Homo sapiens: one gene and its partner. The protein of the gene in region 1 interacts with the protein of each later gene in a biochemical or structural test. Each region holds a gene or a part of one and is shown on either strand. Other genes may lie near its edges.

Evidence for each region. The genes of interacting proteins can lie anywhere in the genome.
Region 2: the proteins of MYO18A (region 1) and PTPN3 interact in a test that uses a peptide from one of them, tested with the Homo sapiens proteins (one large-scale study listed by IntAct).

Annotation. Positions count from the first base shown.
Region 1 is NC_000017.11:29,075,899-29,079,398, forward strand, and holds part of MYO18A (unconventional myosin-XVIIIa), read right to left. Parts: intron 1-3,500.
Region 2 is NC_000009.12:109,379,808-109,383,307, forward strand, and holds part of PTPN3 (tyrosine-protein phosphatase non-receptor type 3), read right to left. Parts: intron 2,641-3,500; coding exon 2,495-2,640; intron 1,981-2,494; coding exon 1,845-1,980; intron 1-1,844.

The DNA.
Region 1 (3,500 bases):
GCCTCCAGATCCTAGAGTTCCAACTTGGGCAAGCAGGAGTTCCATGTTCCCTGCTGCCTATAATTCTGACTTAAGCTGAAAAGGGACCTTTGTTTACTAGCCCTTTTAAAGTTCTATCCCCAAACCAAAATAGGAGGAGTCAGCGTTCTGCGGCAAGAACCACCTTCTTAGCTTTTCCCAAGGTGGCAGTGAGAGATGCAGAGGGCAAGATTTGGTCACTGAGTACTCCTATGTGTAAGACACGGCCTAGGCATGTGAGATAGGCTATCTTACTCTTCACAATAACCCTATGAAATATTACGAGGAAGCCAGTCCAAAGAGATGAAAGGATCTTCCCCAAGGCCACACAGCCAGTATGTAAACTTGAATCTGGGACTCTTAGACCTCAAAGACTTTGGACGACTTCACCCCGCCACTCGATTGGTTGACCTGAGATTAAAAAAAAAAAAAAAAAAAAAGGACCAAACCTGAATTCTCCTGCTGGCTTGGGCAAGTGCCCAGGGGTTATGTAAAGAAAGGTCGGTCTCTATCCCTGGGGGAAAGGAAGAGGCTGATAGAATACATGTTCAATTATGCAAAATGGTTCAGGAATGGGGCAGTCTGGTTAATAGTTATCGTATTTCTCATGAATGAATTACCATTTTTAAAGGAATCAGGATAGCACAAAACACATTTAACACAAACTAGACTGAACATAAATGAGTCTTACTTTGATAGGCCAAAGGCACTTAGGGACTCTGGGGGGGTTTCTAGGACAAAATTATAAAGCTCACTGATGACTATGCAATATAGAAAAAAATTGGGGTTATTTTAGCTTTGGGGTTGTTTGAATTCTAAATTAGTGGGAGCCTGGTTTGGTTCTCATTCTTTACATAGAATTTCTGGGCACTCAGGGCTAGGATCTGCCGTTAGGCTAAGGAGTGCCTGGCTTTGTGGAAAGACAGTGGGGTTACTTTGTGAGCAGAGCGGGGCGAGGCAGATGCCAGGGCTGGAATCCAGATGCAAATGAGGTGCTGCTGGCGAGCTCCAAGGCACTGTAAATTGCTGAATCAGGGCCCCTCTGGTCCTTTCCATTGCCTCACCTCTTTTTAAGGTGGGGGCTCCAGTCCCCAAGCCCACATTCCTGTACCTGCTAGGCAGACACCTGGATAAATGACAGCCGTGTTTCCATACTGTTTCATCAAGACGCTGGGCAGTGGCAGGAGCTGCCGGGGAGGTGGTAAACTCCATGTCTCTCTCTGCCTTGGGCTGCGGACCCACGAGATTGCCCTTGCCCGTAGCTTGGGTGATCTTTAGCCATTCTTAGTGGCTTCCACTGCTCCAGCCATCAGGGAGTCAACAGCAGGCCGCTGCCCTCCTCTCCAGGGCAAGAGTCAGAGCTGGCAATTTGAACATTTTAACCAAATTGTTTAAAAAAGCCTTCCTCCTCACAAGCCAGCGTCTCCTGCTCAGCACTGTCACAAACAATTTGGTACATAAGCTAATTCCTGCCAGGCAAGCCCAGGGCGGCAGCTCCCCTCCCCTTGACTTTGCTATGGAAGCTGCGTTCCTGTTGCAAATTCTTGCTGGTCCTCATCACCAGATGGGAAGCTAAGTGACTGCTCCATCCCATGCCCCCACCCCAAAGCCAGTTGATGCTGAGCACCACTGAGGTCCTCCCTCCCCTGGCCTTCTCCCTCTGGCTCCGTGTTGGTTGGCTAGGTTCTGGCTTGATGGCCACTCTACCAACAGTGAATCCAATCCTCCTTGGAGCGGGTGGTATATATGGCGTCAGGACTACTCCAGCTTTCCTGGTGGAAAAGAGGAACTGCGCTGGTGGCTGGTGGAAGAAACAGGCTTTTGGTCTTTTTGTTATTGCTGGTTGTGGGGTCAAGGGTGATGGTGGGCTGAGGGCATTGGGGTCTGAAATCTGCCAGTTGCCAGTCAGTGTGGGATGGCCCAGCTTTAGGCCCATGTCCATCTGGGGGTAGAGGCGCAGTGTGCAACAAGGCCTGGCCCTCTTTGCTTTCCAAACCCCTCTCCCAGGTCCATCAGCTGACTTCCTGCCCTAGGGGTGTGGGGCACTTAGCAGGGCTGCTAAGAGGAAGGCTGAGATGCCTGATCAAATATTGACTCATATATATATATATTTTTTGAGATGGAGTCTCGCTCTGTAGCCCAGGCTGGAGTGCAGTGGTGCGATCTCGGTTCATTGCAACCTCCGAGCCTCCCGGGTTCAAGCGATTCTCCTGCCTCTGCCTCCCAAGTAGCTGGGACTATAGGCATGCGCCACCACGCCCAGCTAATTTTTGTATTTTTAGTAGAGACGGGGTTTCACCATCTTGGCCAGGCTGGTCTCAACTCCTAACCTCAGGTGATCTGTCTGCCTCAGCCTCCCAAAGTGCTGGGATTACAGGTGTGAATAACCATGCTCGGCTGACTCTTGTCTTACTATGGAGCCAACACTGGTTCCTTGGTACAACAGAGATGCTTCCTGTTCCTCCCAGAGCACCCAGTAACCATCTGCTGCATGGGGGAAGTGACAGAGCAGGGCTGAGCCATTCCACTTGCTCCATTCCTTAAAAGGTCTTACATCAGTCCGTTTGGTATAATCCATTCAAAGTCAGCCTAGGTGTCCAGCCGCTCCACAGCACAAGCATGCGACAGGTGTGTTAGTTCATGCATCTGGGAGACAAATGTCTGTGCCCCAGGGGCTGCACTCGGGGGACATACCTCCTGGGAAGCAGCAAGCTTGCCCTGGGAGGGCAGCATGCCAAAAACAGCTTCACATAAGCAGGGTGATCTAAAATGTCACCACGCACCAGAGAAACTGGCAACAATGGGATTCCAATGAGTCAGGCTCTGCCCTTCTTCCATGGTGGGGGTGTGGGCATAAAGGGCCTAACTGCTAGATCTCCCTCCCCACAGGGAGAAGAGCTGGGGGAGGCAGGAGAGCCAGGGGGAGGCTGTCACTCAGCAGTTGCTAATTTCTATTCATTAGAACTTTACAAGATGAGTAGAACCAAGGTGACGCCCATGTGTGGGCCTTTGGTGGGAGGGCTGGGGAGGGAGTCAGGCATCTCCTGGGTCTGCTGTAGGGTGTGGCGCTGTGTGGGCTGTAGCCCTGGGAGCCTTGTACTCCTAGGCTTGAGATCTATGCCAGAGAGGAAGGTAGCTTTGTGGGGGCAGGGTAGGGGAGGGAGAGCTAAGCAAAAGGCCCAATAATAGCTTAGGGCCACTGATGTGCACCAACCACAGCTGGGGTATAGCTTGGGACCTTTCCTGGCCCCAGCCTGTTGGGGCCATGAATGAAAGCTCCTGAATGGGTGCTGCTGGGCACACACAGTAAACATGTTGCCCATGTGCTCTGCACTGGCTGCCTGGAGGAGTGGGTAAGGGCAAGAGTGCTGGAGTTGGGCAGACCCCATTCAGACCCTGGCAACAACCCTTCCCAGCTGTGCGTGACCACATGGCAAGTGACTTAACCTCTCCAAGCCTCAGCTTCATCTTCTATGAAACAG
Region 2 (3,500 bases), on another chromosome or scaffold:
CTCCCAGAGAGGGGTGGGCAAAGTGTCATGGAGACATGACAGAGGGAGAAACTGGCGGTCTGGGGGAGGTGGGAAGGAGCAAAAGTCCCTGCGGGACAGCCCTTCTTGTAAGTGGAAGTGTGGAAGCCTCAGTAAGAGCCCATTTTGAGAAACGGGGTCAGGGAGCCTGCTCCTGGACTCAACACCTAGGCATGTGGAGGAGGAGGGGCTGCACAGGTGGGCTGGGACCTGGTTGTGGGCACCTTGTGTTGGGGTAAGGAGTCTGGATTGTGTTTTACAAAGCAGAGCCACTGAAAGATGCTCTGCAGGATACAGTTATTTATCTTAGCAAATACCTAAGAAACATATTGTAGCAAAGTATACAGGGGGGATAAAAGCATTTAGACTGAGCTTCTCCAGCTAGGAAAATCTATCTATCTATCTATCTATCTATCTATCTATCTATCTATCTATCTATCTAGTTTTCAAGACAGAGTCCTGTTCTGTCACTCAGGCTGGAGTGCAGTGGCGTAATCTTGGCTCACTGCAACCTCCACCTCCTGGGTTCAAGCGATTCTCCTGCCTCAGCCTCCCAAGTAGCTGGGACTATAGGCACATGCCACCATGCCTGGCTAATTTTTGTATTTTCATTAGAGACGGGGTTTCACTATGTTAGCCAGGCTGGTCTTGAACTACTGATCTCAAGTGATCCACCTTCCTTAGCCTGCTGAAGTGCTGGGATTATAGGCGTGAGCCACCGTGCCCAGCTTCCAGCTGGGAAAATCTACCAGGATGATGGACTTTTTTCTTTTTAACCAGCCACGAGGTCTTCCATACCAAAAAACAGGGCAGAGAATGGCCCTAATAACATAAGCTGATTTTTTTTCTCTTAACAAGATTTTCTGGGTACAAACTAATATAAAACTACCAAAGCTTAAAAATTTATTAGGGAAATCTTATAAACTTTGTCCACAGCCTGTGAAGAGACAGAGCTGGTTGGAACATATAGTTCCTGCTCCTTTCTTTGCTAACTCCTCATGTACCCTGGGGGTTTTTACCAGAGAAGACACTTCTCCAGGAAGCCTTCCTAGACTTTCCAAATCCTGCTTTAGATACTCTTCCACCATGTTCTCAGACAGCCCTGAACTTCCCTCACCGCTGCTGACACTTAGCATAGACTAATCCAGTTCTCCTACTAGATACAAGCCTGTCTCTGCACCCTTCTTTGTCAAATGAATGAATGAATGAATGTGGGATGGTCCCCATTTTGCACAGGGAAGCTGAAGCTTGGAGAGAGGTTCAGGACTTATGCAAAGGTTGTTCCATTTGTGGTGGGACCTTAATCATGCTCTTTCCACACCGCTTCACTGCCCCGCTTGCAGTTCCAGGGGAAATCCCCAAGAGTTATCCCCTAGAGTTCCTCTTGAGGACAAGAGGATGTTGCACATGACCCTACTTTGAGCTCTGGCCTGCCCGTGGAGGACACAGCAGGTACTCAGGCACCACACGGGTGGAACAGAGCTCAAAGTAGGGTCATATGCAACATCCACTGAGCCAAAAGGAGTACCCAGGTCTAGGTGGGTCGGTGCGGGGGAGGATAATGGACAAATGATTGTTCAACGATACAGAATGCAACCAGGGCTGCTCCCTGACAGACGGGCTGGCAGGAAATAAACCACAGAGGCAGCAGAGCTCAGAGGTGAGATGGGTGTGGGCTGTAGCCACTGACAAGCTCTGTGACCTTGGGCAAGTGATTCAGTCCCCCTGAGCTGCAGTCTGTTGACTCACAAAGCCCTTCTCTCAGGCCTGCCTGGTGTAAGTGCTCAGAAAGTGCCAGCCACCGTAATTACTGGATTTCTACTCACTGATGTCTGCACCATCATGGCGCGCTGGTCTCGCATTTTTCGGACAATATCCAGTGGGTAAATGGGCAGGTTCCTCTCAGTTAGGCACATGGCTGTTTCCATAGTGACCAACACACCGGTTCGACCTATTCCAGCACTGGAGAGGGGAGAGAAGACAGACTTGGGATTTGTCTGAGTAGCCTTTCTGCATGGCCCAGCGAGCAGTTCCCCGCTGACTCCAAAGGGGCTTTCCTCCCTTGGCCTTCGAGAAGACAAAACGCACACTCACGGCGTGCTCTCAAACAGGCTGAGACAGCCTGTCCTCACACATCTGAGACTGGGGGCTAGCAGGCAGTGGAAAGAGGGCCACTGTGAAGTGCCAAACCTATTCCCTTTCTCACTCACACCTATGACGAAGGTCAGCTGACAGAAGGACAGGAGAAAGGGTGTGTGAGGGGATTTTCTTCTTCAGTTCTGTGCTACATTCACAAAGTTAGGATTTCATAAAATTCCAAAAAACTTTTGAAATGGTGAAGAACCACAGTCAACAGAGGTTTGTAAGGGCACACGACTTTGTGGGATGTAGGGTGGGTCTGGCGCCTGCCAATTGTCTCCAGGCCTTTTCCGACAGGGAAAGGATTCCAAACCTAACAAAACAGCAAGCGCCATACCTGCAGTGAACTAGGACGGGCTCGCTGTCCACTCTCAGAGACCTCACATAGTTTACAAATTCCAGAAAGTCGGAGGAGTCATCGGGCACACCGTGGTCAGGCCATGCGACGTACTGGAGATGTGTCACTGTGTGTTCTTCCCCGGTCTGTGGGAGATGCAGTGGCCTTGGTGAGCCCATCCAGGTGGTGAGCATGAGGACCCAGCCCCAACCCAGACACAGGGTGGCCCTGTCTCCTGATGCTTTCTCCCTCTGCGCACAGCCCTGCTGTGGCCCCTAGCAATTCCTCCCCTCCTTCCCCAAAGATCCCCATCCCCTCTCAGGCTCAGCTGTGGGCCTGTCCTGCAGGGCTGCCTTCCTTGATCACTTCTGCCCAGTGATCTCCTCTGCCCAGTGATCTCCTCCATTTGCTGCTATGGTACTTGCCATTAGAGGCCACACATGCTGACTGTTTTTTTTTTTTTTTTTCAACTGTGGCAAAATATACTAACATGAGGCTTACCACTGTAACCACATTTAAATGTACAGTTCAGCGGCATTGAGAATACTCGCAATGTTGTAGAGCCATCAGCACTACCTATTTCCAGAACTTTAAAATATCCCGCAAACATAAACCCTGCACCCATTATGCCATATGGCAAAATGTCCATAGATGTCCTTTCTCCTCCTTCCCCAAGCCCTTGGCAACCACCGTTCTACTTTCTGTCTCTATGAATTGGACGACTCTAGGCACTTCACAGAAGTTGAATCCTACAGTATGTGTCTTTCTATGTCTGGCTTATTTCACTTAGGATAATATGCTCAAGGTTCCCCAGTGTTGTAGCAGGGGTCAGAATCTCCTTCCTTTTAAAGGCTGAATCATATTCCATTGTATGGACAGACCACGTGCTGTTTATCCATTCCTCCATCGATGGACACTGGGCTGTTTGCACCTCGTGCCTGTTGTGACTAGGGCCACTGTGAACTCTGGGCCCTGGCTCTTTGATGGGCAGTCTTGCGCACTTACT